6 separate regions of the Homo sapiens genome follow, and all the other regions are linked to region 3. Evidence: fine-mapped expression QTL. A gene starts in region 3. Each other region holds a variant in brackets. All regions are shown on one strand. Distances are between the middles of the regions. Region 1 has its middle 150 kb from the start of DAAM1. Region 2 has its middle 32 kb from the start of GPR135. Region 3 holds the start of L3HYPDH (trans-L-3-hydroxyproline dehydratase). Region 4 overlaps RTN1 (reticulon 1). Region 5 has its middle 47 kb from the start of DAAM1. Region 6 has its middle 53 kb from the start of DAAM1.

Evidence for each region. PIP is the estimated chance that this variant, and not a neighbour inherited with it, causes the effect.
Region 1: its variant is fine-mapped to the expression of L3HYPDH in whole blood (TOPMed, PIP 0.98).
Region 2: its variant is fine-mapped to the expression of L3HYPDH in whole blood (INTERVAL, PIP 0.95).
Region 4: its variant is fine-mapped to the expression of L3HYPDH in tibial artery (GTEx, PIP above 0.99).
Region 5: its variant is fine-mapped to the expression of L3HYPDH in monocytes after interferon gamma (Fairfax 2014, PIP 0.95).
Region 6: its variant is fine-mapped to the expression of L3HYPDH in vagina (GTEx, PIP 0.99).

The regions. Positions count from the first base shown.
Region 1 is chr14:59,035,206-59,040,281 of GRCh38, forward strand. No RefSeq gene overlaps it. Among named protein-coding and RNA genes, the nearest start is that of DAAM1, 150 kb to the right of the region's middle. The variant C/T (reference allele first, on the strand shown) is at 2,282.
Region 2 is chr14:59,430,650-59,435,725 of GRCh38, forward strand. No RefSeq gene overlaps it. Among named protein-coding and RNA genes, the nearest start is that of GPR135, 32 kb to the right of the region's middle. The variant A/G (reference allele first, on the strand shown) is at 2,350.
Region 3 is chr14:59,481,758-59,486,833 of GRCh38, forward strand. It overlaps L3HYPDH (trans-L-3-hydroxyproline dehydratase), which reads right to left and starts at 2,651. Exons shown (of 5, transcript NM_144581.2): 1 at 2,052-2,651. The coding sequence starts at 2,559. It overlaps JKAMP (JNK1/MAPK8 associated membrane protein), which reads left to right and starts at 2,760. Exons shown (of 7, transcript NM_016475.5): 1 at 2,760-2,836; 2 at 4,956-5,047. The coding sequence starts at 2,833. RefSeq lists an enhancer at 2,726-3,005.
Region 4 is chr14:59,677,913-59,682,988 of GRCh38, forward strand. The region is part of intron 3 of RTN1 (reticulon 1); the gene reads right to left. Among named protein-coding and RNA genes, the nearest start is that of MIR5586, 33 kb to the left of the region's middle. The variant A/G (reference allele first, on the strand shown) is at 2,262.
Region 5 is chr14:59,138,894-59,143,969 of GRCh38, forward strand. No RefSeq gene overlaps it. Among named protein-coding and RNA genes, the nearest start is that of DAAM1, 47 kb to the right of the region's middle. The variant A/AAACG (reference allele first, on the strand shown) is at 2,728.
Region 6 is chr14:59,132,724-59,137,799 of GRCh38, forward strand. It overlaps the pseudogene AKR1B1P5. Among named protein-coding and RNA genes, the nearest start is that of DAAM1, 53 kb to the right of the region's middle. The variant C/T (reference allele first, on the strand shown) is at 2,219.

The sequences.
Region 1 (5,076 bases), 450 kb before region 3:
AGGGTATTCAATTTAATTGTTTCATAGGGTGTTATGATTATCAACAGAGGTTCCATCAAGAAAAATGTTTAGGGCAGTACCTGGCACATAGCAAGCACTCAACAAAGCATTTCTTCCCCTTCCCCTCCTCCTCCTCCTCCTCCTTCTTCATCTCCTCCTGCTCCTCCTCCTCCTGCTCCTCCTCTTCTTCTTCCTCTTCTCCTCCTCCCTCCTCCCCCCTCCTCCCCCTCCTCCCCCTCTTCTCCTCCTCCTTCTTCTTCCTCCTCTTTCTCCATTTTGTTATTATTATTACAAGATAAATAGCATAATCATGTTATTTTTTTTCCTTAGAGTTCCAAATTTTTGCATAGCACACAAAGCATGTGGAACCTTTCATGTGCAACAAGCTTGACTCATGTCACCCTCCAGTGTATCCTAGCATTGCAATGCAGGTAACACTGCCAAATCAAAAGTGTCCTTCTGCTTTGCTCCACCAGAGTAATTTGCTACTAGGGCAGTCATTTGAATATGGGGACACTGTAGCCTCCTTCTACATGGTAGGGAATAGCCATAAAGATTGGTCCAAGTTTAGAGTTGCTCATGTTAATGAAAACCTGGAACCTGGGACAGCGCCAGCATTTCTATACTAGTATGTAAAGACATACCTGAGACTGGGAAAAAAGAGGTTTAATGGAATTACAGTTACACATGGCTGGGGAGGCCTCACAATCATGGCAGAAGGCAAGGAAGAGCAAGTCATGTCTTACATGGATGGCAGCAGGCAAAGAGAGAGAGCCTGTGCAGGAAAACTACCATTTTTAAAACGATCAGATCTCATGAGACTTATTCACCACCAATAGAACAGTATGGGAGAATAATTTAATTATCTCCCACTGGGTCCCTCCCACAACACGTGGTAATTATGGTAGTACAATTCAAGATGAGATTTGGGTAGAGACACAGAGCCAAACCATATCAGTTTCCTCGACTGTTTAGTGATACACTCTTTTAGTTATATATACTCAAAATATATAACTATCCCATTCCTAGTTCACAGCAGCAAAGGACAAATTAGCAAAAGAAGAAACTCACTTAGTTTCTTGAAATTCAAGAAAAGAGGAAATGACCCATTCGTGTTTCTCACAGACTAATTCCCAGAAACTACTAGCCAAGACTCAGGCTCCAAGTTTAGGCATTACCATATTTTTCATTCACTCAACAAAGTTTTTTAAATAAACTCTATGGGGAAGTTACCATAAAATATGCCATGAAGACTCTTTCTGCCTAAAGATAATTGTTACTAGTTATAAAAGTCATAAAAGCTGTTTATTGAGAAATTATTGTTTCAGGCATTCTAAGCAGGAATTTAAAATGATTGGGGTGTAGCAGATATGATGAAATCTACATTACAGATAAGAAAACTGAGGTTCAAAGAAGTTACCTATGCAAGGTCACAAGATAGATTGTGACTGAGCCAAGAGTCAAACCCAATGCTGAAAAACTCGAAAGCCCGCAATTTTTGCAACATTTTATATTGCTTCTGAATATTTTAATCTAGAGGGGAAAAATATAAAAGCTTATCAATAATATAAATTATATGTAAGTTATTCAATTGCATCCAAGAAGCATTTATTGAGGATATAAAGCACTATTATGCATTTGAAGGAGGTATAAAGTCTTGAATAAGATAGTCTACCCAGATCTTCTTTAGGGGATTGTACTCTAATATAGTACAAATAAGTGCTATAACTGAGTTAGCAGAGAACCTTATTTCTCATTAAAGAAGATCAGAGAATGTATCACAGATAATGTAAGTTAGCCACTTCTGGAAGGTTATAAGAGTATTTCAGCAAGTGGAGAAGGGTGGAAAGAACACAGCTAAGCACAGATACTTGGTGTGATATTGAGCATGAGTGAGTAGTCTGAAGGGGCAATTACTTTTGCGCCAACCTAAAAGAGCTATAAAGAGATTCACTGGCTATAGGAGGCAAGCCACATCTTTGCCAGGAAAAGGGTCATGGGACACTGTAGACCAGGAAGGTTGAGCTGGATGATATCACAGCAAAAATGCAGCAATTCAGGAAAATCTGGATGCAGAAGGATTGTGAATCACAGGCTTGGAGTTGCTGGGCCACACGAACTGGAGAGATGTGGTAATAATGGGGAGACGACTGTGTGTAGAAGTAGCCATTCTCAAGGTTCCAGATGGAACTGTGGAATGGTGATAGGATCATTTCAACAGGCTCAAAATGTCCATTTCTGACCAGCTGTACCATGGGTTTGAATCATCAAAACCTTCAGT[C/T]TTGCAGTAGGATTACTTTGAAATGGCTTCACTAGAGTGGGGGCCTGGTCTTTGTTGACAGGAATGGTGTGGAGCAGCCTTAGGTTAATGGTATGACTACTGAAAAGTAAACCCTCAAATGCTGGTGTTTTCCCAGTGTAGTGTCTTAGCCCCAACAGATCAACAAAGACCTTCTTGTAGAATATTGCCAAAAAAGATGCTTTTGTTTTGAATGCTCTTCTAATGGTTCCTGAAAGTATTAGGTTCGTGCAAAAGTAACTGCGGGTTGTGAGGTTTTTTATTGTTGTTTTTTGTGTTTTTTTGGCCATTAAAAGTAATGGCAAAAACCGCAATTACTTTTGCACCAACCTAGTATTTGATTGTTCCCTAATTCAAAGTGTTTTATTGATGCCAGAGGAACCTAAGAAATACTCTGTGGGGGTTTAACGCAGGTATCTATTGTTTTTTCAGTTACAAGACTTACTGTTAGTTTAAACCTTGACATAGAAGATAATAGATAAAAGCATACTATTATTCTGGTAGAAACTAAAATGGCTGCTCAGGTGAGGCTGTACTGTTTTTCTGTTATTCTGAATTGACTGGTAGTTTGATTAAATGTATTATTTTACACTGAAAATGTACACCAATAACTATGGCTATAACGTGTTTAATTGTATAATTTACTATGGGTGGATTTTAGTTATTGAAAGGATATTGCTTTTAAAATGTGCTTTTTTTTTTTTTTGAAACAAAGTCTCGCTCTATTGCTCAGGCTGGAGTGCAGTGAGTGGCACAGTCTTGGCTCACTGTAACCTCTGCCTCCTGGGTTTAAGTAATTTTCCTGCCTCTGCAACCCAAGTAGCTGGATTACAGGCATGGGCCACAATGCCTGGCTAATTTTTGTATTTTTAGTAGAGATGGGGTTTCACCATGTTGGCCAGCCTGGTCTCAAGTGATCGCCCGCCTCAGCCTCTTAAAGTGTTGGGATTGGGATCACAGGTGTTAAAATGTGCGGTGTGATCTCGGCTCACTGCAACCTCCACCTCCTGGGTTCAAGAGAGTCTTTCGCCTCAGCCTCCCAAGTAGCTGGGATTACAGGTGCCTGCCACCATGCCCAGCTAATTTTTGTATTTTTAGTAGAGACAGAGTTTCACCATATTGGCCAGGCTGGTCTTGAACTCCTGACCTCAAGTGATCCACCGGCCTCGGCCTCCCAAAGTGCTGGGATTACAGGCATAAGCCACTGCGCCCAGCAAAATGTGCTTGTTCTTGTAATGATGTCTTAAGGTTCTGAATATCACATACAACATAAAACCATGTGTTTTCACTCTTAAAATCCCCACTGGGAAAGAAAGTTCACCTGAGTGCTACTGAGATTTGCTCCATTCTCTAAAGTGGAAGAGGCTGTGAGGAGGCAGAGTCGAGTTGAGAGCACTACTACTTTCAAGTCGGGAATCCCTGCCTCAAAGCGTTGCCCCAGAGCCATATGACACACACAAGCTGTTCACCTTTCTTAATGTTAGAACCTGGCCTCCTCAAGAGAAGAATCTTGTTAATCATACCAACAACTATTTTGTTCTTTCTGCCTCACGCTTTGCAAGGCAAAGGGGTGCAGGAATTGGAAGGCAGAGTGGATACTCCTCTTCCTTCTCCTGCTACTACTACTATTGCTACTGCTGCAAACACTACCAGTTCTTTGGCTGCTAGCTAAGATTTATTGGGCATTTTCTATTTGCTATACCTTACTCTAAGCATTCAAATATATCAATTCAATCTTTATAGTAACTCTTCCAAGTAGCTATTTTTAATCTCCATTTTACAGGTGATGATCTGAAACACAGTGATATGGGTAGGCTTTGTTTTCTCACCCAAATCTCATCTTCAATTGTAATCCCCAGGTGTTGTGGGAGGGACCAGGTGGGAGATGATTGGATCATGGGGGCAGTTTTCCCCATACTGTTCTCGTGATAGTGAGGGAGTTCTCATGAGATCTGATAGTTTTATACATGGCAGTTTCCCCTGGGCCTTTTTCTCTCTCCCGCCACCTTGTGAAGAAGATGCCTTCCTTTCTGGCATGATTGGAAGTTTCCTGAGACCTCCCCAGCCATGCAGAACTGTGAGTCTATTAAACCTCCTTTCTTTATAAATTACCCAGTCTCGGATAGTGTCTTTATAGCAGTGTGAAAACAGACTAATCCACGCAGCAAGGATACATAACTGGCCTGAGTTTACACCACTAGTAACTGGTAGAGTTTGGTCTAACTTAATCTACTTTATCAGAAAATGAAAGCATTAACATGTACTCTTTTAAAAATATTTGTTGACATACTCCAACATGTAACTCCGTGATAAAATTTCTTCCACGGAGGCTGAATAAACAACTGAGCCACTTGGCCAGCTTTGACCCTCCAATATATTTCTATCTACAAAAATAGCACAGTTTATCATCTTTTTAAGAATAGGAGGTTTATAGTTAGAGGGAAAGTGGAGTCATTTTTCTGCTTCCATGACTAGGAATTGATCTCTTTTGTATAGTTGTCTAAAGGTATGTTAATAAATATGAGGGAATTCACATTGCCTATCTGAAAATTTTGTTTTGCTTTGTCGTATTGGGTTTCTTTTGGGAGGACATAAAGTGATGCGAATTCTTCTGACCCTCATTCCAGGGTATAAGAAAGAGATAAATCCACAAAGGCATACTAATAATTGCCTACATAGTATATCTGCTTGGGGCAATGATATTTTGAGCCTTGGAGAAAGACTCTGAGGTACAGCAGTGACAGTTGGCCATTAATACAAAAATTGATTTTCTGAAA
Region 2 (5,076 bases), 51 kb before region 3:
CCCCATCTCTACTAAAAATACAAAAAATTAGCCGGGCATGGTGGTGGGCGCCTGTAGTCCCAGCTACTCAGGGGGCTGAGGCAGGAGAATGGCCTGAACCCAGGAGGCGGGCTTGCAGTGAGCCAAGATTGTGCCACTGCACTCCAGCCTGGGCGGCAGAGTGAGACTCCATCTCAAAAAAAATAAATAAATAAAATAAAATAAAAGTACATGGCGTCTCTGTATTATTTCTTACAACTGCATGGGAATCAAAAACTTTTTCAGAATAAAAAATCTATAATAATATTTTAATCCTAAAAAGATGATCTCTCGAAATCCTGTGTTCAACTGTAACTTGGATGTCACTTGTTTCACCCTGTTCAGACTGATTCATGCATCACTCTAGTGATGGCAGTGTGCCCTTCAGACAAATGTCAGGTTACAGGTGAAGTTCAACTTCCCTCCTTCTAATCCAGTAAAAAGCACTTACTTGAGTTAATATCATGAATCAATGAAGTATTCAGTGCTGGAAATGAACCTACTGTTTTGTTTTGTTTTTTTTTAAGTTCATACCTCCTCTGAACTAGATAGGCATTTAAGTGATAAAGCAGAGGAAGCAAGAAGGAGATATCAATGAGAAATGATTGGTTGGTTGGATCATGGCATGTACCTACCTCACTTCAAAAAGTGATTTAGGATATGTTATTTTAAAAATACGTGTTCTATATTGTGGTAGGCCGAGTGGTAGTCCTCCAAAGAGGTCCATGTCTTAATCCTCAGAACATGTGAATATGTCACCTTGCATGGTAAAAGGAACTTTGCAGATGTGACTAAGTTAAGGATCTTGAGATGAGAGATTAGCCTGTATTATGCAGGTGGGCCTGATGTAATTGTAAGGTTCCTTACAAAAAGGAGGGAGGAGTTCAGAGAGAGGAGAAGAGAATTTGTTAAGGAAAGCAGATATTGGAATGATATGGCCATAGCCAAGGAAACTGGCAGCCACTGGAAGCTGGGTGAGGCAAGGAATATTCCCTCTGAAGCCATCAGAAGGAATCAGCCCTGCTGACACCTTGATTTTAGCCCTATAAGATTCATTTCTGATTTCTGACTTCCAAAGTTTAAGAGAAGAATAAATATGTGTTGTCTTAAATCACTGCATTTGTGGTAATTTGTTACAATAGCAACAAGAAATTAATTGAAGGAGAAGAAAATAAAGAGGGGAAAATATGATGAAGCAATAGCTTACTCTTTCTTGTGTCTAATTTTATTGAAATACTAATTTGAAAGCAAGATTTACTTCTTATAAACTCTATGTAGACTGTGCACTTGAAAGCTTACCAAACAAAACAAAAACAAAAAAATCAGTCAACTCGCGTAGCGAGACATTGTATAATCTCTAATAATTAACTTTTTTGTACTCTGCCAGTAAAAAAGCTCATATTAGAAATTATTTTTAGGTCAGGTGCAGTGACTCACATCTGCAATCCCAGCACTTTGGGAGGCCAAGATGGGCAGATCACTTGAAGCCAGGAGTTCAAGACCAGCCTGGCCAACATGGTGAAACCCCATCACTAATAAAAATATGAAAATTAGCCAGGCACGGTGGCCTGTAGCTACTCAAGAGGCTGAGGCAGGAGGATCCTTTCAACATGGGAGGCAGAGGCTGCAGTGAGCTGAGATCACGCTACTGCACTCCAGGCTAGGTGACAGTCTTGACTCTGTCCCCCCCCGCCCCCCAAAAAAAGAAAATGTATTAAGCACGTCTATCGTTTGTCATAGTCTCAGTAAGAGTTAAGCTCAATATTATCTCTTTATTTCCATTTTAGAAAACCAAGAACCAAGTAAATTACAATAAATTATTTAGAGCTTGGCATGCATTTCTCTATTCTTTCTCTATTTCATATTTTGAAGGCAGCTTTTTTTCATAACCTCTGGCATCATTCCCTTTACATTTAAATCATCACCATTCATTCATTAAACAGGTAATTACTGCTATACATAAATATATATACCTATAGATACATATACACACATATAAAAATACACATATATGTACATATACATACACATACATATAATAGGAATTAAATTACTCCCCTTATTTATAGTAGACGTGTGAGAACAGTGAAGACACTGATTTTCAAAAAGGCGAATTCCAGAACATGATACCTCTCATGGCCTAGAAAGTCTTTAGGATGTTGTTAAACAGTGGTTTGGGAGCATTTAGAAAAGACGTATGGCCCGGAGTGGAGTGGCTCACGCCTATAATCCCAGCAGTTTGGGAGGCCGAGGCGGGCGGATCACGAGGTCAGGAGATCGAGACCATCCCGGCTAACACAGTGAAACCTGTCTCTTCTAAAAATACAAAAA[A/G]TTAGCCGGGCGTGGTGGCGGGCGCCTATAGTCCCAGCTACTCGGAAGGCTGAGGCAGGAGAATGGCGTGAACCCGGGAGGCGGAGCTTGCAGTGAGCCGAGATCGCGCCACTGCACTCCAGCCTGGGCGAAAGAGCAAGACTCCGTCTCAAAAAAAGAAAAGAAAAGAAAAGACGTATAATCCTTAGGAGTCAGCAACATGGTTTCCTGATGGCTTTTAGAATGACAAATCCAGATAGAGTTGGTATTCACCTAATATAAGAGCTTTGGAACCTTCTCTTGTCCCAGTATATGCCACATCCCACAGGCTCCAACTGGCATAGGACTGTGTTTCAGAGAGTGCCTATTAGCATGTGAATGACTCGAGAAGAAACAATGTTCTTGCCAAGATTACATACGTATGGCTTAAAATATAATTACAATATGCTTTTAAAATATGCCACACATGTTTACAAACCACAGCACATCAGAGTATCTCTCTGAGGTCATCTAACTCAGCCCTACAGAATCCTTCTACAGCATCTACTTGAATATCCCTAGAGAATGGGAATCTATACCCTCCCTGTTCAACCTATTCATTAGACAGTTAATTTATATAGAATAAAACTCTGACCTTAATCTGACATCAACTCATCGTTCATCTGTAAATTAAAAAAAAAAAAAAATCCTGGGTTTTTTTTTTTTTTTTTTTTAAGATGGAGTTTCGCTCTTGTTGCCCCAGCCTGGAGTGAGTGCAATGGTGCCATCTTGGCTCACTGCAACCTCTGCCTCCCAGGTTCAAGCGATTCTTCTGCCTCAGCCATCCGAGTAGCTGGGATTACAGGCATGCACCACCATGTCCGGCTAATTTTGTATTTTTTAGTAGAGACGGGGTTTCACCATGTTGGTCAGGCTGGTTGTGAACTCCCAACCTCAGGTGATCTGCCCACCTTGGCCTCCCAAACTGTTGGGATTAAGAGTGTGAGCCACCACGCCCGGCCCAATCCCGTCCTCTTTTAACACGTGAAGATAGTATAAGGCTATGTCAGACCGTTCTTGCATTGCTGTAAAGAAATACCCGAGACTGGGTAATTTATAAGAAATGAGATTTATTGGCTCACGGCTTTGCAAGCTGTCAACTGGAAGCATAGTGGCATCTGCTTCTGGGGAAACCTCAGGAAGTTTCCAATCATGATGAAAGGCAAAGGGGGAGCAGTCACATCACATGGCAAGAATAGGAGCAAGGGCCGGGGGAGGTGCCACACACTTTTAAATCATCAGATCTCACTCACGATGGTGAAGACAGCACCAAACCATAAGGAATCTGCCCCCATGATCCAAACATCTCCCACCAGGCCCGCTTCCAGCATTGGGGATTACAATTCAACATGAGATTTGGGCAGGGACAAATATCCAAACTGTATCACAGGCCCTGCTTCCAAAATTTTTTTTTTCCCAAGTTAAACATACATTTTTTTCTTAACTTTCCTTCACAGGTCATTTTCCAGGCAGATCTAGCCATACTAATCTCTGCTGCAAATTTTTCTAAACCAATTTTATAATGTATTGCTCAGACCAGGACAAATACTCCAGATGTCATCTGCCACAACAGGTTATAACAGTTATGAAGGTAATGCTCTGTATTCATCTGTGTGGCAGGAAATCTCATTAGCTTCATTGAAATAATTACACCAAATTATGTTCTTTTGTATCTTTTTCCAAGTAATCATAAAAAATGTTTTATAGAAAAAAATGTAAGGATTAAACGCTGTGATACTCTAAAAGAGATATCCTGCCACATAGATACTTAGGTTATTGTGTTGGTTCAGCCAGCTGTGACTCCACCTCACAGTTCAATAAAGAGCCAGCATCTCTCCAGCCTCTTCAGAAGGCTGCGCTGGAGGACTTCCAACCATGCTAGTCATGGTACATTATAGGTATGGCATTCCCCAGATGCAACAAATCAATAATGAGGATAATTTGGCCTGTCTTACAATTACTGAACTACTTTTTTGACTCCTAGCGATAACTTCTTTTCTAATGTTCTTCCACCATCTGTTTAAAATGAGCTCTTGAATTTTTCTAGGACATGATATCATCTTATAGGATTTGACCTTTTGAAAATCTGGATGAGGAGGTGTCTCCATTTTCCTAACATCAACTACCCCCCAACAGTTTTGAAGATTATATATAGCAGTTCTGAAAGCATCTCCATATTTGTTCATCACCCTGGGATAAAATTCATCTGGACTTACGAATTTGCACTAAACTAAAAACAACCAGAATTCAAAAGAACTCCCCTGCCTGCCAATGACTTAGTGTCACATGATAACTGTGGCAGAAGGGGATCTGCAGTCACTAGGCTCTTTAAAGATACAACAGAGCAGCGTTGGTGGTACAAAGGGCTTCACAGCAAATGGCAGTAGATAAATCTGCTATTGTATCTTCTGATTATTAAGATAATTAAGATAATTAACTTTATTTGGGTTACTACGCTAGGAATTATCCTATTTCTTCATAACATGAGTTGTTAACTTTCTTGTTACCATTGAAATAGAATGCCACTAAGGCAGCTACCAGCATTTGTCACAAACATGAAACTAGCTCCTAAAATTTTAGGCCTTAAATATGGAGATAAATTTAGAAGACATTGTAGTATCTCCCCAACATCAATTTCAATCTCTCCTTTTGTATAGGTTGCATTGGGTGGGGTTGACTTCACTCCCAACTCCAGGGGTGCCCCCAGGT
Region 3 (5,076 bases):
AAACTACAAAAAATTTTAAGGATGAGAGGGAAGCAATATGATAGGCCAGGGTTCCAACCCTAGTTCTGCCATTAGTGTGGCTTTGGTGTCTTGTGCAAACTGTAACTGCTATTTCTCCTAAAAGAGTTGTTTTGAAAATTCCACGTATGGGGAGTTCCTGGCACAGATTAGGGACTCGAAAGCCAAAACTTTAATTTCCAGTGGCAATAGGTTTCTCAAGAGGACCAGATGTTTACATTTGTCAATCAGCATATTCTTCTCCAAATTTCATTTATTTAGTTACTCATTCAACAAACATTCATTGACTGACTACTCTTCTAGGCACTTAGAATACTGTGAACAAGAAAGAGTTTGCATTTTAGCCTGGTGGGGTGGAGATGAACTCAGCAACCCTCTGAGGTGGGTACTGTTGTCATCCTCATTTTGCAGACTGTGATACTGAGGCATGGACTCTCTAGCACAAGGTCACTGAGATGGGGAGAGGTGGGGCAGTGACCTTGAACACTATGTCTGCCTTGTATGCATTTTTCAAAGTAGAGAATATAGCATTTCATTTTCTTAACTCAGTGACCATTAATGCCCACTAATCATTGTACTGTCATACAGTGATGCTCTCAGGAACTACTGAGAGGAACTACTGAGGTCAAGTGGTTGACTGACCCTGCCCTAACTGACCCAGAAATGAGATGTAGTTTGTGTTCCTGCTGCCAGCTGCCATTTCCTACAGAAGTCTAGAGTGTTTCTACTCTGCTGCTGGAGTTGCCTAGGGGGAATTCTGGTAGCCACGCTAGTTAAACTGTTGAGGTTTTAAAAATGGAATCGTAAACATAAATTCTGTCTCCCTCAAGTGGCCTCCCAGTCTGGAAGTGACACCATTCTCTGGGAAAATGGCATCAATTTCTCCAGAGGCATTCTTCGTTAACTCGTGGATTTCAGCTGCCTAAGGTTGCTCTAAAAGTGCCTGTTCTATCAGTTATCATTCATAATCAGGCTAATCTGAAACCTAGTTCTTCAGGGGGAATCAAGGTCCAACTTTCTAACAGATGATTTGCATGGCTTGAAGATTTTTAAGAAAAGGATAACTCTATTCCTGGTAAACTGGCTCCTGGCTCACTTCCAGTCACAATGACTAAAGCATTCTTACTGATAGAATTCAGCTCCTGGGAGGTAGTAGTCTGATGAGAAACCAGATGCCAGCTTGCCAGGTCATCCCTCCTGTAAGGGTTATGGTTATAGAGATGCCCTGCTTTACATGATAAGCTGTACAAGGATCTGTACTAGAGAATCCAGCAAAACCTTTTAATGGCTCAATAGGCCTAGGGAACTTTAGCGATCATATAAACCTTGCAATCTATCTCCAGGAATACAGTATCTTGCATACTCTCATTTAATCCTAACAAAAAAACTCTATGAGGGAAAAGAAGAAACACAGGCACAGAGAGATTAAGTAATTTGCCTAAGGTTGCACAGCTTTAGGGGGTTATCAGGATTTGAAACCAGGCAATGTGTGTTCCTGTTCTTAAAGAAAAGCAACATTCGTATCTTAATGATTTATAAACTGCTTTGTTCATTCATTCTCATTTAATTCTTCAAAGAAGTGGGGGAGGTGAGGAAAGGAGACCAGGTTTAGTAACTTATTAAGTGTGATTCTGTGTCTACCAAGCATATTCTCAGCCAGCCTGGAACCCTGGTACATTGGCTGTTCTTCGCTCTTTCCTTGACCCCACCGTACCTTGCTTTATCCACCGGTGAAATCTCTAGGAATGCCTCACCAGTGCAGAGGGAGGCGCTGAGTCAGGGTAACACGCAATTCCTCGCTCCTCAAGGGTCTCCCAAAACCACAGGCGGATGGGAGTCAGGGAAAATCGAAATTACACGCACCAAATACGCAAGGCTGCTGACACACGTTGGCAGTGATTTACCTTTCTATTAATTGCAAGGTTTCGCGGAGTAGGTTAGTTGCCAGAGTTCCAGCCCAGAAAAACCGTTAATGTAGTTAGTCGCGTCCCGGTTGCAGCTCTGCCCTGGGCTGGAAAGGTCCCGCCCATTACCTGTGGCCAGCACGAAGGCCGGGACGCTGTGGAAGCGCACCGGTCCGTGGCTGCGGCCGTCCTCGCATGCCACGAAGGCGGTCACCAGCCCGCAGGGGCAGTGGATATTGACGCGGGCCTCGCGGGTGCCCGCAGGGGGCGCCGGCACAAGCCCGAAGTCCAAAGCGAAGCGGCCCAGCGCCAGCACTGCGTGGCCGCACATGGAGCTGTAGCCCTCGTTGTGCAGGAACAGGACGCCCAGATGCGCGTCCGGCAGCTCGCTCGGGACTAGGACCGCCCCGTACATGTCCCGGTGCCCTCGGGGCTCGAACATGAGCCGTCGCCGCACGTGGTCAAGGTGCTGGCGCATGTAGCGCCGCTTGGCCAGCAGGGTGGGCCCAGACACCTCCGGACACCCCGCCAGCACGATACGCAAGGGCTCGCCGCCCGTGTGCATGTCCACCACCGACAGCACCGGCGTCCCTGGATCATGCGGGGGCAGCCGGGGCACCGCCAGCGCGCTCTCCATGGTCTGCGTCGGGGGAGACGAGTACGGTCCCGCAGCTATGGCTTCAAGCCCGACCCTCACCCACTGACTCCGCGGGAGGAGGGCGGGACGCTAACCAGCCACGTCCGGGGGGCGGGGTCTCGGAGCCTAAACCCGGAAGCGAGGGAGGAACTTCGGAGCTGTCGCCCGGGTTACCGGGAGGCGGAGCCGCCGAGCTCGCTGTGGCCCGGATGTTCGGTGCAGCTGCCAGATCCGCTGATCTAGTGCTTCTCGAAAAAAACCTTCAGGCGGCCCATGGGTGAGTGGTCGCCAAGATCCCGGGAAGCGTTTCTGGTAGTCCCGACTACTTTCCTACACGGCTGGCCTCGGGCTCGGCTCTTTGTAGGCGGCCTTCGGTTGGCGGCGCAGGCTCGCCCCTTGACCCCGCCCGCCCTCGGGCCGGGCTCCGCACTCCTGCGGGGTTGGGGTGGTCTGTCCGCAACGGGCTACTAGGGGAGGCGCGCTGTCTGCGGCGAAATGCCAGGTCTTTGTTGTTTGGTCCGAAATGTCTCTTCAGTCCCTTAGTTTAATGTCGAGGGAACACTTGCTTGAGGGTTGACTTCGGAATTGAAAACGCGGGTGATAGTGCAGAAAAAACAGTAAAGCAGAAGCAAGTTGCTGCATAATTTGTCTACTGCTTCAACCTCAAACGTAGATTTATAGCGCCCGTCACAAAGGGCAGGACCGCTGCAAAAAAATGGAATCTTAAAACTTTAGCCATCGTTCGCTAAAGGAAATGAAAGGAGAAATTCAACAGTCGCTTGGAGCCTGGGTTTTGCTTAGTAAGTGATAGGCTGTTTATTTCAGTTCAGTTTATCATACTGGTTTTCAGGCCTTGGATTTTGAGAAACTTTAGATTATTGATATTCACGTGTATTTATTAAGCATCTACTAGATGTAAAGCCCATACAGAAGTTTCCAATTCCTTACCTTCTGCATTCTTGAAAAACCTGAAATATTCATTTTCATGTATTAATTTAGAACATTGTGATTACAATTGGTTACAAAAAAAATAAGCGCCCATTAAAGAGGCCAGTGGGTTTAAAAAGCTAAGTCCGAAATTTGTTAAAAGCGAAAATATTAAACTGGAGGAATATTATTCAATGCTGTTTCTCTTTTTCTCTCAGCAGCATAAGGAGAAGGAAGTAAAAAGTCTGCTTGAATGTGAAAGGAGAGAAGGCACTGTAGACCAGGCAGTCTAGATTGTGAATTCGTGAATAATTTGGGAAATGATTGTTCAAGAATAGTCAAAAGATGCATAATTTTTCAAATTAATTCACATGTAGACCGCAGTTTGTTTTGAGACGGAGTCTCCTTCTGTAGCCCAGGCTGGAGTGCAGTGGCGCGATCTCGGCTCACTGCAACCTCTGCCTCCTGGGTTCAAGCGATTCTCCTGCCTCAGCCTCCCCAGTAGCTGGGACTACAGGCGCGCGCCACCACGTCAGGCTAATTTTTGTATTTTTAGTAGAGACGGGGTTTCACCATTTTGGCCAGGCTGGTCTGGAACTCCTGACCTCATGATCTGCCCACCTCGACCTCCCAAAGTGCTGGGATTACAGGCGTGAGCCACCTCACCGAGCCTGTTTGTTTGTTTTAATCAATGAATGAATGAAGGGAATCAGATGTCACTGATGAAGAAAACTTCCATAATTTCTTGTGAATAAGGTCAAAGACAACGTATTAGGTTCTTAGTTGTTGGGGTTTTTTTAAGTAAGGAATAGCTGCTTTTCCCCTAAGCCTTTAGATCAGGGGCTTAATTTTAATGCAGTGGTTTCTAAAATATTGGCCCAGTGACAGCCTTGATGAAATTTTCACTTATCCTCCACAAAAATGATAAAAGCTAGGACAATGTAGGAAACTTTTTATAAAGGTAATTTGCATACCTCTGTTATGAAATTATGTTCTCTCTGCTTTTCCCATGTGAAAATGTGTTCTGTTATGAACATAGGTGATAATGATAATTGTGTGTCTACATGTGGGTGCTTAATGTCCTGACTGGGCAAAATACAAGGTGGTGACCCTCTACTGGTGCTCTAATTTAAAAATATATGTATATTTGAACTTTATAATCAGTTAAACTCAGAAGTATCCTCTAATCATACCGGGTTAGGCTTTGAGTCCTGGAGATAGATCCTGCTCTGCTGGTTGAGGACCTTAATCATAAGGCACGGTATTAACAGCAAGGTTCCAGGATAACTGTCTGCAGTGTCACAGTGTAAAAGGAGAAATGTAAATTTAAAAATGCTTCAAGACTTTTGTCTAATACATATTATTCAAAAATTTGAAACTGTTATTTTTGCCAAATGCTTCAGCTATTATTGCAATTATTTTTTATAATCACAAAAGATGTTACTATACTGGCATTTGTTTTTAAAAAGCTGTCGATATTCAACCAGCATGCCTTGGACTTTATTGTGGGAAGACCCTATTATTTAAAAATGGCTCAACTGAAATATATGGAGAATGTGGGGTAAGTCTTATGTTTGTATCTTATTTCAT
Region 4 (5,076 bases), 200 kb after region 3:
TCTGTCTCTTAATGTTAGAACAGTCCCCTAAAATAGTCTTTCTTACAAAAATAACATTCTTTTCTCACTCCCAGGATCTTGGCATCTAAATGCTATTCTAGGCATTTTAGAAAAATAAATAGTCAAAGCTATTTACAACAATGACTACCACGCTGTGGCCTGAGATGGTGAGTTTCACTTGAATTGCCAAGAAGGGAACAAGGGCGTCATATAAACCCTGGAAAACAAGCCCAGGGACAAGTCCTGTTCTGGGGTCTGGAGGATTTGGAAGGCTGCCAAAGCTTAGGCAGTGGTGGTAGGGGTGCGTGGGGAATGTGAAAAGGGGTCTTTTCTCCAAAGTTTTATTTAAGGGTTGAATGCTAATGCGAAAATGGCCTAGCTCAATCATTTTAGCTTCTCTGGCTTGGCCTTCCTAACAGCAAGAAAGAAGCCATCAATGAGCTACAAAACTTCATTTTTCCTACAGGCTGGAAGTGGTCTCTTTTTAATATATGTTCTGGATTCCACTGTCTGAGAGAAGAAAATTGATTTAAACATTTAGGTATCTACAGACAACTCTTACTGACTCAGGGGCCAGCGCACTCAGATTGCAGATTGCAGCATCCCTGTTTCTCTACCTTGTGCCTCATCCTTTGTGAATTCTGAAAGCTGGTTGCTTTTTCCCACATACTGAGGTCCAGCGTGGGCCACAGCACATGTTGGGACCTCAAGAGCTGAAGGTTCCTTGCTGGGCTCCCAGGCACAGAGGTACAGGCCTCCCTTCTCACTACTGCCCCTTCCTCAACCTCCACTGTCCCCATTGTCCTTAGGCTCACTGGTGTGGAAGAGACTTTAACAGACTGACATGCTGATCTTCAGGTTTCTCAAAGCGTGACCACAGACCACCTGCTTCAGAAGCACTGGGGGAGTTGGTTAAAAATGCAGCTTCCTGGGCCTCACCCCAGGCTTACTTAGTCAGAATGGGAAGCTGAGAATGTACATTTTTAACAGGCTATCCAGGTAATTCTTATGCACATATAAGTTTAAGGACCATAGATACAGGTGCAGGGTCTTAGTATCTAACTCTGTTGGGTTCTTGAGTTCAACTGTGATTTCAAAAAGCAAGGGATAGCATCTGAATCCTCTTGGCTCCTGGCAGAGTGACAGATTGGATTGTGAGGGATGACAGTGTCTGGAAAAGACTGGGAACAGGTAGGAATCTACTAGAAAAAGGCCAAGATAATCCCTAACTTGACATTTTGTATTGAGTATTATCATGTGTAATTGTTAGGGTGGCTTGGGTATGAATTAGAGAAGTATTCTCAATTTCCCTCTTAAGCATCAGAAGTTGCACAGGTGCTCTGAAATGAAACAATAGTACAGCCCTCTCTGCTAAATTGAGTTATCTATTAAACAAACAGAGCCACCAATGATAACCCATACACCCTTTGACTTAGGTTTCATCTTTACCATTGTATCAATGTTTGTAAAATAAGGCTAGAGACTGGAGCTCTAACTTTTCTCAATCCAGACTCTACCTCTCTCCAGCTAAGACCATGAGGTCTTTATTTCTTCTCTATGCCTTAATTTCCCCAACTGTGGGATGAATCTGCTTATAGTACTAGTCATAGGTACCTTTTAATGGTTATTAAAAAGGGTTGAACAGTAAAACAGCAGAGTACAAAACAGGTGTTATATTAGTAATCACTCTTAATAATTTCATTGTTAATCATTGTCACTGCAAAAATTAACAGTGACCTGACCTATGAGAAGAAGCTGAACTGTTTAGCTCAAATGAAGTCTGGGGATGACTTCTGGATTTAAGTTATTCACACTCAACCTATCACTTATTGCCACAGACACTTCAAAGTTCACAGTTCTCTGAAATATCATAATTTTCCAGAGCTTCCATACAGACTTGCATATAATTTTCCAGAGCTTCCATACAGAACAATTTGAACCTTGCAAATTGTTCTCATTTTATCTTAGGTCTAACAGGTTGGGGGTTGGGGTTTGTTTTTCTTTTTTAAAAAAATAGAACTTCTTAAAAACCAGGTCAGACTTATCAACAGAATCTAAATAAGGCTTGGTGTGTTGTGCAACCTCTACAACATAGCAACAATGAAATTTCACTGCAACTACTGCCCTCATACCCAATAGCATTTACAATACCTCTGACAAAGTGTGTCTATTTCCATGGTACCTGTTGCCATGGGAGCTGAGCAGTGCTCCTCCTAGAACAATCATGTTAGTAACATAGCTCTTAGCTATTGCCTTCTAAG[A/G]GCTTTGCTCTGGGGAAAAAATGGGATACTTTGTTTTTGAAAGAAGTCATAAACCTCCTCCAAAATAGACAATTGTTGCTTAATAGTACTAAAAAGGAAAGAGCAATCCCTCTTTCCCTCCATACCAGTTAGAGAAGCATTTCTTTCCTTCTGGAGAAGTATTTCCAAGTGAAACCATGCAAAATATAGGGAAGTGTGTTTTGAATTCCATTTTAAAGTTATTTTGCATAAAAGTTAAATAAAAAAGGAGATAGTTGTCATTGTTTACAATAAGTCTATCTTTACTAATTTGAGCTAATCAGTGAATTCACTGAATAAAATACAAGGTTAGTGCCAATTACCAATTTCCCAATGAACCCAAATACAAGGCTTTATAGCATGCTGTATTATTTAGTGTGTCCAGGCATTGCCACATAAAGCTGATGGAAGTATACATTTGTATCATCTTTCTAAAACACAATTTGGCAATAGGAGCCTTAAAATGTTCATATGTTTTAGTATGGTAATTCTATTTCCAGAAATCTATCTCAAGAAAATAATTTGAAATGAACACAAAGCCTTATAAACAAAGATACTCAATGGAGTGGTATTTAAAGTTTTTTAAAGCTAAAATCTAAATGTTGAACAATAGAGAATGTGTAACTAAGTAACTGAAAAGTGATAGGCATCTTTATGCTGTCATGAAAAACCATATTTATGAAGAGTTTTTAATAACTTGGGAAAATGTTTATCATATCAAGTTAAAAAAAGAAGTATATGAATTTATACAGCCAACATAACAAGTATACAAAAATATGTACAGACATAATAATAGAATATATGTTGAAATTTTGACAGTGGTGGTTGAATTATGGATTACAGTTATTTTGTCTTTTATAAGTTTCTATATTAATAGTATGTGTGTGTCTATCTCTATTTCCCATTTTCTCTTTTTTCTCTGCTTCTCTTTTCATCTAAGTGCTCATAAAACTACAAATCTATTTTATTATTTCCATATTTATTAAATACATCTTAGATTTCCACATGTACAAATCCAACAAAAACTTACCAAGCATTATTTGCTATGAACAATTCTTAATTTAGACATATGAACATATATTTCCTCTAACAAAAACAAGTCAGTTACTTTGCTTTTAATTTACTTGGTTCTTGATTCATATGTTTTATTCCATGAGTAACTGTCTCTCAATAGAAAATCATTCTGAATCTTAAAAAATGGTAATTTGAAAATGCCAAAATGTTCTCCATACTATTTTTTCAACCCTTTTTTCTAGCTCCAATAATGATTATCAATGATGAGTGTCATATCAATTCCATCCCCAAACCACACACTGCAGTAGGCACTGGGAAATAATGAATCTGGGTCACTAATACTCTGTATTCTCCACTGGGCTCTCTCACTCATGCTCATAGTTACCACCAGACATGGGTACCACCAGCTCTGAATCTCCAGCCTGGACCTAGCTCTTGAGTTCCAGGTTCAGGTCACTAACTGCTTACTAAATAAATCTTCCTGAATGTCTCCTAGGCATCTATGAACTCATTTTCCCTGTATCACCTTCTCAGATCGTGTTCCACTAAGCAGCCTTCTTTTTCATCCAGCTAATCACATCAGAACACAAGGATCATCCCAGATTCCTGTTTCTGTCTCACTGTTCCCTTCCCCTACCCTCAAACCTTGATTTCTACTTTCCAAATCTCTCCCAAATTCATCCTCTCAGCTGCTACAGCTTTAGTTTATAGTTTAGACCCTCGTCACTGCTCACTAGATTTTTTTAGTGATCTTCTAACTATCCTTTTGGTTACCAATCTGTCCTTCTCATGGAGAAATCTTTCTAAACATAAATCTGATCATGGTGCTACCCTTTAAGAAGCTAGAAGATCCAGCATGTGCTTTTTAATGTGGCTCCTTCCCATCTCCCCATCTTCATCTCCCATGGCTTTGCCACTGACATACTTTCCAGAAAAATGGAATTATCCTAATTCCCTGAAATCACATGCTATTTCACCCTTTGAGGACTTTACACACATTCTTTTCTTCAACTGAAATTCTCTCACCTGCTCCATATTTCAAGACTTAGCTCAAGGTTCAACTCCATTTGTCTTCCTTTCCTTATGGCATTACTATTTCTGGTACATCTTCTCATGATTATTTTATTTATTTGAACAAGATTTATTACACATCCAATGTTATACCATGCATTGTGCTGGCTGCTGGGTAGATAGACTACTTCTGCCCCCACAGAAGGATTCCACTTGCCTTTCCTGCTGTTGAAGTTTATACCTATGTCTCCTTTGAATTGCTAGAGGGCAGGAACTGACTCATGGTCATCTTTGTATCTCCCAGCTTCTGGCGAAAGTAGATGCCTAATAAATGTGTATTGAACAAATGGAAACAAACACAAGTGTTTCTGTTTACATTAACACAACAATAAAACTTAACAAGTATAAAAGTTACTCATAATTGCCAATGAGTAATGTTTCACACTTCATAAAACAGAAACAATTGTCTCTAGGGAACAAAATCAAATGTATACTTACAGAGCACATGGTTAAGCATTGCTAAAAAAGGCTTTGAGAATATGATTTGATAATTTATGAGTTTCCTCATAATTCTATGATTAAAGTGACTAATCATAGGGAATATAGTTAGTCCCACTGAACTCCACTCCAGAAACTGTGGTTCCTAATACGCATGCACTAATTTGCCTAATAGAAATCTTACTTATGAGGTTATTCAGCATTTAAGAGTGCAGGCAAAAGAAAGGAGAAGCAATTTGATTTGTACCTAGGGGAGTGACATTTTGGTTCTCGG
Region 5 (5,076 bases), 340 kb before region 3:
GAACACATTTTAAGTATGGAAAGAGAAAATCCATGATGAGAAAGGCTGTCCCTACACTGACAGCTGGAGCTCCTGGGGAACCTTTAATCACTTTACCTTAAGCCATGGTTTCTTGTCATCCAAACTGCAAGAGAGTAACACTAAATAAGAGACAGAGGTTGTGACATTCTTATACAATTCATACTTTGCCATTTTCCTGTAAATTTACTTTTATAATTCTCCTTATAGTAAATAAAGTTATCCCTAAAAAAGAACATTATTTTAGGATGGAGGCAATAAGAACACTTTGAATAATGAGATCCTTAGAAAATGAATTCGGAGAATTTTCACCTCTGGATAATAAATTATTTAGATAGATCATCTCTTTAAGACCAATGAATCTTTAAAGTTGTCTGCTTCTAATTTCAAGAATATTAGCTATGATCTGTGATATTCTCATCCCCCAGCAGCCCTTCTGCCCAACACTACCAGCAAGGAAGATTGCTTGCGCATTGGGTTCAGTGTCTAACTCCGCTGGCATAGTGGAGACTGAGCCTGTGCACTGGCCTGAGGGGCTGAACAAAGTCTGTGAAGAGAAGAGAACACCCTCTGAAAATTGGCCTCCTAGCCTGGCCTAAGGGTGACTTCGCCTGTCACACTCTATGGGGTTGGCCAATGGTGAAGTAGTCCCTCCTTGTAGCATTCCCTCAGGGACAAGTTTCTATATTAAAATCTAGTGGCTTCCCGAGCTTTGTTTTGTTTTGGTTTTTTTCCCAGGATTGGGTCCAAACTCAATGGCAGAGAAGACTCTTCAGGGTCCAGCCGCTGGCTCCATCTCTAGCCCCTCTCCTATCACTTTTCTCTCTCTCTCTGAAGCCTGCACACCAGCCACACCAAGTGACAGTATTTTGGGGTGATAACATGCTCTCATGACTGTGTTTTGTACATACGTCTTATACACAATCCCCTAAACCTCCCGGTTGGGAGACAGAGATTCTATTCCCAGCTTTGCCATCAACCATACAGGTGACCTCAGTTTCTCTGTCTATAAAATAAGGGGATTAGAGGCTTAATCATTGCTAAGTTGTGGCCTATGGTTCAAATCTGGCTCCATACAAGCTTAGACATGCATTGTGTGTGTGTGTGTGTGGGTGTATCACCCTCCAGTCCAGCCTAGTCCCCCACTTTCTCTCTTCTATACCTAGCAGTGTTACACATTTACATCAGTTTCTGGCCCTTAAAGGTACATTAATAGGCCAACAAGAGGCCAGATGCTCTCTAAGGTTTCTTCCATGTGAAATAAATTAACTCCAAAAACACAGGCTGAAGCAGATGGTAAATGTGCAAGAAATGCATAAAAGACCTCAGCGTCAGGTACTAGAGACCCTATCAAATAGTCCTGGACTGACACCAAGACCTTTATAAACAATCAGATTCCCTTGACTGATCCCATATGGCTAACGAATTTGCTTTCTTTTACCACGTGGCTTAGCAGGTATTAGCACCATCGCTCCCGGGATGGTCTGCTTTTCCACACAAAATCAAACTGATTTCTCCACAGAACACCTGTTCCTTTTGAAGCTGTAACCCAATGATCAATAATCTTTATTTTCCTTCCTGAATAATAATTTACAAAAGAGAAAACCGAGGTCCTACTATTTCTCATTTTAACACGGACTAGTATCTGCAAGTTTCTGTTGTAACAGAGGAAATCTGGAGCCCATTTCTCTCAACCACTTGAGTTTGACAGGATCATGAACCACTGGAATTCCAGTCCACCCTGGGGAAACATGTTGTTCAGACCTGTGATATATGCTCATCTACTCCCAACATCCATTTCCTTTGACATAAAGTATATGGCCTTTCCTCTGACCAAAGCCCACTTCTTCTTAAACTAGTTTGAACTTTTTTTGCACTAAACTGCATGCTGATCAGGTGTGGCAGAAACAAATAAATCATCCAATTTTCCCAAAGAGAAAAGGCTATGACGAATGCTAAAAGGCAGAGGGCTGGATCAGAGGGTCTCTTAAGACCCCTTCTAGCTCATCTGTTTTATAACTCTAAGTTCATTAAAAGATTGTGCCAAAACAGTGGATGCCTCATAGTAATTCATGAATAGAAATTATTACTGAAAAAGAAATGTAGGCCGAGCGCGGTGGCTTGTGCCTGTAATCCCAGCACTTTGGGAGGCCAAGGCAGGCAGATCATGAGGTCAAGAGATCGATACCATCCTGGCCAACATGGTGAAACCCCATGTCTACTAAAAATACAAAAATTAGCTGGGCATGATGGCACATGCCTGTAGTCCCAGCTACTCGGGAGGCTGAGGCAGGAGAGTCAATTGAACCCGGGAGGCGGAGCTTGCAGTGAGCCGAGATTGCACCACTGCACTCCAGCCTGGTGACAGAGCTCCATCTCAAAAAAAAAAAAAAAAAAAAAGAAAAGAAAAGAAAAAGAGGGCCAAGGGCGGTCATACCTGTAATCCCAGCACTTTGGGAGGCCAAGGTCAGGAGTTCAGGACCTGTCTGACCAACATGGAGAAACCCCATCTCTACTAAAAATACAAAAATTAGCCGGGTGTGGTGGCGTGTGCCTATAATCCCAGCTACTCAGGAGGCTGAGGCAGGAGAATCGCTTGAACCCAGGAGGTGAAGGTTGCAGTGAGCCAAGATCGCACCACTGTACCCCAGCCTGGGTGACAGAGACTGTCTCAGAAAAAAAAAAAAAAAAAAACGGAAGGAAAGAGAA[A/AAACG]GAAGGAAAGAGAAAGGTAATTGTCTGTGAATACATTAATACACCTTCCTCTCCAAAAATGAAAACAGAAAATCACTGAGCATGTTCACGTGGAGACAACAAATTCTGGACATCAAAGGAAAGGTCAAAGTAACATGGGGCTAGAATATGCAGAGTGGTGCCCAGAGATTTGAGAATTATGTTCAGGTGATGATCTACAGCTCTGAAGACTCCAGACCTGAGATCTTCGGGATGATTTATGACTGCAGAGCTGTGTGCAAGAAATTTATTTGGAAGTGGAGCAAAGAAAGATGAGCTAGTGTCTCAATAAGTGCTTGTAATCCTGTGAGAAATAGCTAAGTCCTTTTAAAATTTATAACAAATATATGAACATTTCGGATCTTGATTACCTTTTGGAAATGAGTACATACTGTGACTGAAAAGATAGGGTGGGAATACATGCAACCAGAATCATGGTGGTTTTCAATTAATCTCATTCCTTTGACAATTTATCTTTTATTTCTGAAACTTATTTGGCTAGGCATTATATCAACTAAGAACTCTACAAGTTGACTATATGGTATAATCACAGAACTACATTCTAATAACTGTTCATCTGCACAGCAGTCAAAAGGGCTGCTTTGCATGCACGTGGCAAAAGAGATCAATATGAGAAAGAAGAAAAAACAACAAAAGGGAAAGAAGAGTGAATGGGAGGAAGGGAGGGAGGAAGGAAGGGAGGGAGGAAGCCAGGAAGAAAAAAAAGTTTTTTAAGTTAAGCAAATTATTAACTTATTCCATCTCCAAAGTTGAAAAAGATCAGACAGTTACTAAAATAAACAATTTCCCCCCCAAATCTATTTTGGTTCTTATTTTTTGAACTTTTTTCCTCTATTACTTCAGTAAGTTGTACCTTTTGTTTCTATAATTTAGTGGTTACCCGAGAAATATAATACCATACCCAGGCTTATGAAAGACTAAAGTGAATGAAAATCTTTACCATGTTCTCAAATGATACAAAGCTTAAATTGTGCTAAATTAATAAAACCTATGGAAAGAAAAGAGAGAAGGGAAGAAAATAAAGAAGGAAGAAAGGAAAGTGGGGGGAGGAGGATACAAGAATCGAGAGAGAAATTTTCTGAAAAGATGTTTTAAAGAATGGCCTTAAGAAGGCAGACATCAAAGTCCTACAGATAGGGTAGAATAAAATGTGAGCTCAAAAAGAGAAAGTGCTTTGCCCAACATCACACAGATAGGAACAGAGCCAGGACTTGAACAAAATCTAGTACCCTTTCCCATAATCTCATGCTGCTTCACTAGAGACTGCTACTCAGTGCATGTGGCTTCCAAAGAAGTCCCAAAGGCAGGCTGGGCACGGTGGCTCACACCTATAATCCCAGCACTTTGGGAGGCCGAGGCAGACAGATCACCTGAGATCGGGAGTTCGAGACCAGCCTGACCAACATGGAAAAACCCTGTCTCTACTAAAAATACAAAATTAGCTGGTCATGGTGGCACATGCCTGTAATCGCAGCTACTTGGGAGCCTGAGGCGGGAGAATAGCTTGAACCCAGGAGGTGGAGGTTGCAGTGAGCTGAGATCTCGCCATTGCACTCCAGCCTGGGCAACAAGAGCGAAACTCTATCTCAAAAACAAAACAAAAAAGAAGTCCCAAAGGCTACTGCTAAAACACCTTTGCAGGGTTTGCAATGTTTCCCGCCACCCTCACCTCCTCCCCACCCCCAAAAGAATGACAGCATTGGCAAATTGATCAAATAGATGTATTTGCAACCAAACAGAACTAAAACAGACTTTCATTCCTAAATAATAACCCTGGGGGAAAAGAGTCTACATGACTGATGGCCATTTGGAAAACTTAGTTTTTCTTTTCTGTATAAATAAACATCATTAAGTATTTGCATGGTACATCCAGCGCAAATCAAACATAGGTGATGCCAATGAGCCCTCTTAAAAATGCCTTTTTCTGCTTTACCCATCCTTCTCTATATAATCAGCTCTTTGGGAAATCCAAGTATACACTGGTATGGCATAACAAGCCACACCTTGGCCTTCCACTTCATTTCTTTTTCCCTAACATGAAATGGCTGCTATCAATTTTAACAGCTCTAAAATTTTTCTACCTGTGTTATTGCATTATGGTTGTACATTACAGTGAAATGTACATTACAGTGAAATGAAAAGGAGCTTTTGAAAAACGTCTGGATGAGTTTATGGATGTTGCTTCACGAGGATTTGAACTAATTTGGTCACGGGAGAAACTGTTTTAAGGTAATATGCAAAATATGTCTGTATTTTAACTATTAAATTTAAAAAATATTTGCAGCACATTTGTCTTGTAGTTTGGGTATA
Region 6 (5,076 bases), 350 kb before region 3:
GGACCAGTCCCTTGACTTCCATGTCAGGTTGGCTCATTGTAATATAAAATCCATTTTATCACATTTATTTTGTCTCAGATTGTCAAGCAGAGGCTGTGCAGGTTGTGGATTCTCAAGGAAAAGAAAACAGCATTTGTTTTATTAATAGAGTTGATGGTTTCTTCAAAGCAAAAATGTAGATCAGAAACAAATTATGCTTTGCCCACTGGCTGAGATTTAAAATATCTCTCCAACTGTCACAGAAAAGAACTAGACTTAATTCAATGTAAAATGCATGAACCAGTTTCTAAAAATAAAATTGGAAGCACTTTAGTTGCTATAAACTTCATTCCAGGAAAGTGAGTTATATGAGTATTTTATATTGTTTTATGGGACTTGGAGATTAAAATGATTTTTGGTTGACATCGTGTCGGCTTCCTATTTGAATCAGTCCAGAATGAAGCTGAATAGAATTATAGGGGAAAAAATGAATGACCATTACTGGCAGTAAAACAACCAGGCTTTGCCAATAACATTTTAAACACATATACATACACTTTACACCCCCTCCAAATTTTTTATTGGTTATGTCCACATAGACTGAAAGTTCTACACCAGTGGTTCCTCTCAAAGCTCATTCCTGATGACTGAAACTGTTTTATGGCGTGGTCAGCTCCACAGTTTGGAGGAAGGGGGCAGTAATCATCTCTCTGTGACCCTCATATCCCCAAACTCCCATTCAAAGTCAGCAATAGGTAGTATTAACTTCTTCCTCTGCAAAGATTAAGCTCTGATGGAAATGAAATATTTGGTGAGCCCTGAACAGGGCTTTCGCAAAAGGAAGTGCAAAAGTTAAACAATCAGTCATAGGTAGTGGAATAATAGTTTATATATTTTTTCTTCTTGGCAAGTTCTTTTTATTGTCCAGTACTTCTGTCGTTTCTACCGAACCTTAACGCTAGGGCTTATTATCCCAATGAAGAAGGAACACCAAAAATCCCAGCATGAACGAAAGAATCGAATAATGGGCTCGAAAGCCTATGTTGAGTTCCAAAATAGGTTTTAGGCCTATGGCAGAGACAGATTTGAAGGAGGTTGGGGGAAGGTTTCTTAAGCTCCAGAAGGAAAAATACATGAAGCACTCAGAACATAGTGTTTTACAACAAAGTCTAATCTCTGATTGCAAAAGAACTCGTCCCAAAATATAGAGAGATGATAAGAAGACTTGAGGGAGGGAGCTGGAGAGAACATGGGGAGTCAACCAGCTAAAGGGAGTTAGTGATGTGGTCTCTGTAAGAGGGTTCCACATGCTGCTCCCTCTGGGTCCAAAACCCTAGAAAAGAAGGGATGATGGAAACCTTCAGGAAGATGCAGGAAGACAAGACAGCAGAGGACTTTGTGTCTGAATTGCTGGGAGGAAGCTGCCTTCCAGGGCACCCCATGCCAACATGGAGTAGCTGCACTAAAATGGAAAGGATGAGTCAGGTTCAAGGAGAAAGGAGATGAGACCCCACCTCATACACAGATGCCACCTTGAAGGAGCCCCTGCAAGTGATCAGGGACTTGAGTGAGCACAGAGCGAACTAAAATATCAACTTGCAGAAGAGAAAGGGAGATTCTCACAGTAGAGGCTGTGGGATGGGCAGCCACAGTCAGAGTTGAGACGGAAAAATTTTGCTGAGTTTCAGAAGCTAGACAGCCACCGGCCAATGTTGAGGCAGGAACTATGGGAAAGCAACAGGGGAGACGCCAAAACCCAGCAGAGCAATGGTCCTGCAGTGAGCCTGTTGTGAGAACAGGCTTTGAGTGACAGCAACAGTGAATGCCAGTGGAGAAGTAATTGCAGATCAAAGGTTTCTCTGAGAATGTCAAGGTTATGCATAAGTCCTCCAGAGCCTCTGACCACTCCCAGGGAGATGGGAAGGAAAAGGAAGATGAGGTGAAACAAAATGACTAGGTACCCCCAAAGAGACTGAGTTTAAGGTAAATGCAGTGGTTCTCAACCAAGGACAATTTTACACCTCCAGGGACATTTGATATGATCTGGAGACATTTTGTCGTTGGCACAACTAGGAAGGGCAGGAGGCTGCTGGCATCTTATGAGTGGAGGCCAGGGATGCCGCTAAACATCCCAAAACATGTGGGACAACCTTCACAACAAAGAATTATCCTGTCCAAAATGTGAAGAGTGTTGAGGTTGAGAAACCCTGAGCCAAAGTAACTGAGTTACTACTGTCGG[C/T]AGAAATGAGACTATGAGAAATGTTTTAAAAAGAAATTTACACTTTTGCACACCCAAATTCCTATAACTGAACACACACACACACACACAATAATACAAAGATGGAGGTTTGAAGAAAATGGGGGAGTGGAAGTTAAAATGGTAGTACACAGCCTAAGAAATGTCAAATTTTTTTTTAAGCTCACAACAGCACTTTTTTTTTTAGGCAAGGAGAAGTCTTGCTGAAAAGTTACAAGCAGTCAAAACGTGACTGTTAGTGGCACTATTTTGACCTTGTAGATTTTGCTTCTCCTTGGTCAAAAAAAGGGTATGCACACTACACTTTCCCCAGCTGGGCAAAAAAGAGGGCAGAGGAAACTGGAATAGACTTCTACTCTACTGACACTGCTCCTCAGACCCAACATCAAGCTAGAAAAGCCCTGGCTGCTCAGTCTAGTGGTTGTTGTTCCACCACTGAGTGACACAGGCCATGCTATATTTGCAAGAAAAAAATGAGCAGGAAAAACAAGTGTAGGTCACTGGGGATGAGCAGGCATCCACCCCTTCAAAACTCTGCATGGAAGAGGTAATCCTTATAAGAGGCACAGCTTACCAAGGCACAGACCCTCCAGTTCTTGTTGTAGCTGAATAAGATGGTAATATCCTGGCTGCTTGGTTCAAAGTCTGTGACTCAGCAGTGCATTCTGGTATCACAGACCTGGGGATCACCATCAAGTTCCTCTGCCTGGGGAACCGGATCCAAACCTGGATCGCCTGGCTATGATCACCTGGCTATGATTGCCTTGATCTTGGGATCCTCCAGGAGGGAAGGGTCCTCAGCCTTGGCCCAGAGGCTGTCAGGAGAGCCAAGGGGACTACAGGCAGTCACCATAATGCCTTTAGAGTGGCAGTACTGGATTAACTTCTGTGTGAGGCACAGGTGGCACTCCATTTGGTTAACTGCTGGCTTATACTTTAACCCAGGTTTGTTTAAGATCCTCTCAACCTGGAGATGGTTGAAGGTGGAGATGCCAGTAGCTTTCACCAGCCCTTCATCCACCAGCTCTTCATGGCCACCCGTGTGTCCACAATGTCAGTGTCACTGGGAACCATGTTGCCTGACTCATCCAATGGGAAGGATTCCTTCCCACGCTTAAAGCTGGCTGGCCAGTGAACAAGGTAGTAGTCCAGGTAGCCCTGCTTAAGGTCACTGAGCATCTTCTGACAGGCTCCTTTCACCAGGCCCTTCCCATGGTATGTGCACCAGAGTTTGCTGATGATGAAGAGCTCCTCACGCTTCACCATCTGCCCCCTGAGCTTCTCCTGAATGGCCACCCCTATCTCATTCTCATTCTCGTACCTGGGCTCAGTGGATGTGGCGGTACCTGATATCAATCGCCACCTTCACAGCCTTGGTCACCTGGCCTGGAGGGGACATTCAGATGCCCAGTCCCAGGATGGCCATCTTGGTGCCATTGTTGAGCATGAGGTGGCTGGCCATGGATGCAGTGCTTCCCAGACCCCTTCCCAGAAACATGCACAGAAACTTCAATATTTAAATATTAGGTAGGAAAAACCAGTAAAGAAAGACTTGGAAGAGGCCAGGTGTGGTGGCTCATGCCAGTAATCCCAGCACTTTGGGAGGATGAGGCGGACGGATCACAAGGTCAGGAGATCGAGACCATCCTGGCTAACACAGTGAAACCCCATTTTTACTAAAAATACAAAAAATTAGCTGGGCGTGGTGGTGGGTGCCTGTAGTCCCAGCTACTTGAGAGGCTGAGGCAGGAGAATGGCATGAACCCAGGAGGCGGAGCTTGCAGTGAGCTGAGATTGCACCACTGCACTCCAGCCTGAGCGACAGAGCGATACTCTATCTCAAAAAAAAAAAAAAAAAAAGAAAAAGAAAAAGACTTGGAGGAGGGACAGCAAGGTACAAAAGACACCAAGAGAGTGTATATTATCACAACAGCTAAGGAAAAAGGACAGACGAGCTCAAGAAGGACAGAGTAAACTGTGTAAAATGCCCTAAGAAGTCAAGATGATAAGCTAAATGTATAGATTAGTTGAATTCTGCTTCTTGTCTATTAGGGGAGGTGGGGAGGAATGGGATCCAGAGAACACATGAAAGGATTCACTTTAGATGGAAGAGATTCCTCCTCCACTGGAACAGGAGAGAAGAGAATAGGTGCTAATACAAGTAGGTTTATAAATTGTATTGCAATAAATTGTGAATTTCCCACTTAGGAAGCAAAAAATCATCTGCTGAAATTGAGAGGAAGAGAAGAGAAGCCAAAGAGTGTGGAAGGTTTGAAATGGCAATTATAGAGAGTGGTGGGCCAGTCAATTAAAGAAACTTGGTAGGATGCACGGGCAGCACGGAGTGCCCAGTTGAGGCTGGTGACTATGAAACTGTAGTGACAATGGGCACCTGTGTGTGATAGCGCCCCAGCACTTCTCAGCTGCTTGATGCAATCACAGAGATGACAAAATAGCTAGATTAGCCAACAGAGGGTTTGGTTAGGATCAGTGGTTATTTAACTGGGATTTGTGTCAGAATCACACTGGGAATTTTTTGGGAACACTCACACACATGCATGGACTATGTCCCTAAGATTCCAGGCTCCATAAACCTGATGGTTGGCCAGGACATTTGTGTTCTGAGGAAGTTTCCCAGTAATGTGCAGCAGCAGTTAGGAACCACTCATCAGTTCAGGTGCAACTAAAGAAGACTGACAAGGGAGTGAGCAAGAGTGATATTGGAACAATGGGCAGTAAAATCTAAGCCAAATTCAAGAGAAAGGTAAAGACACAGCGTCTCACAGGTAGGGTTAATGCAGAGATCAATAGGTAGGAGATCCCATAAAGTCAAATAACAG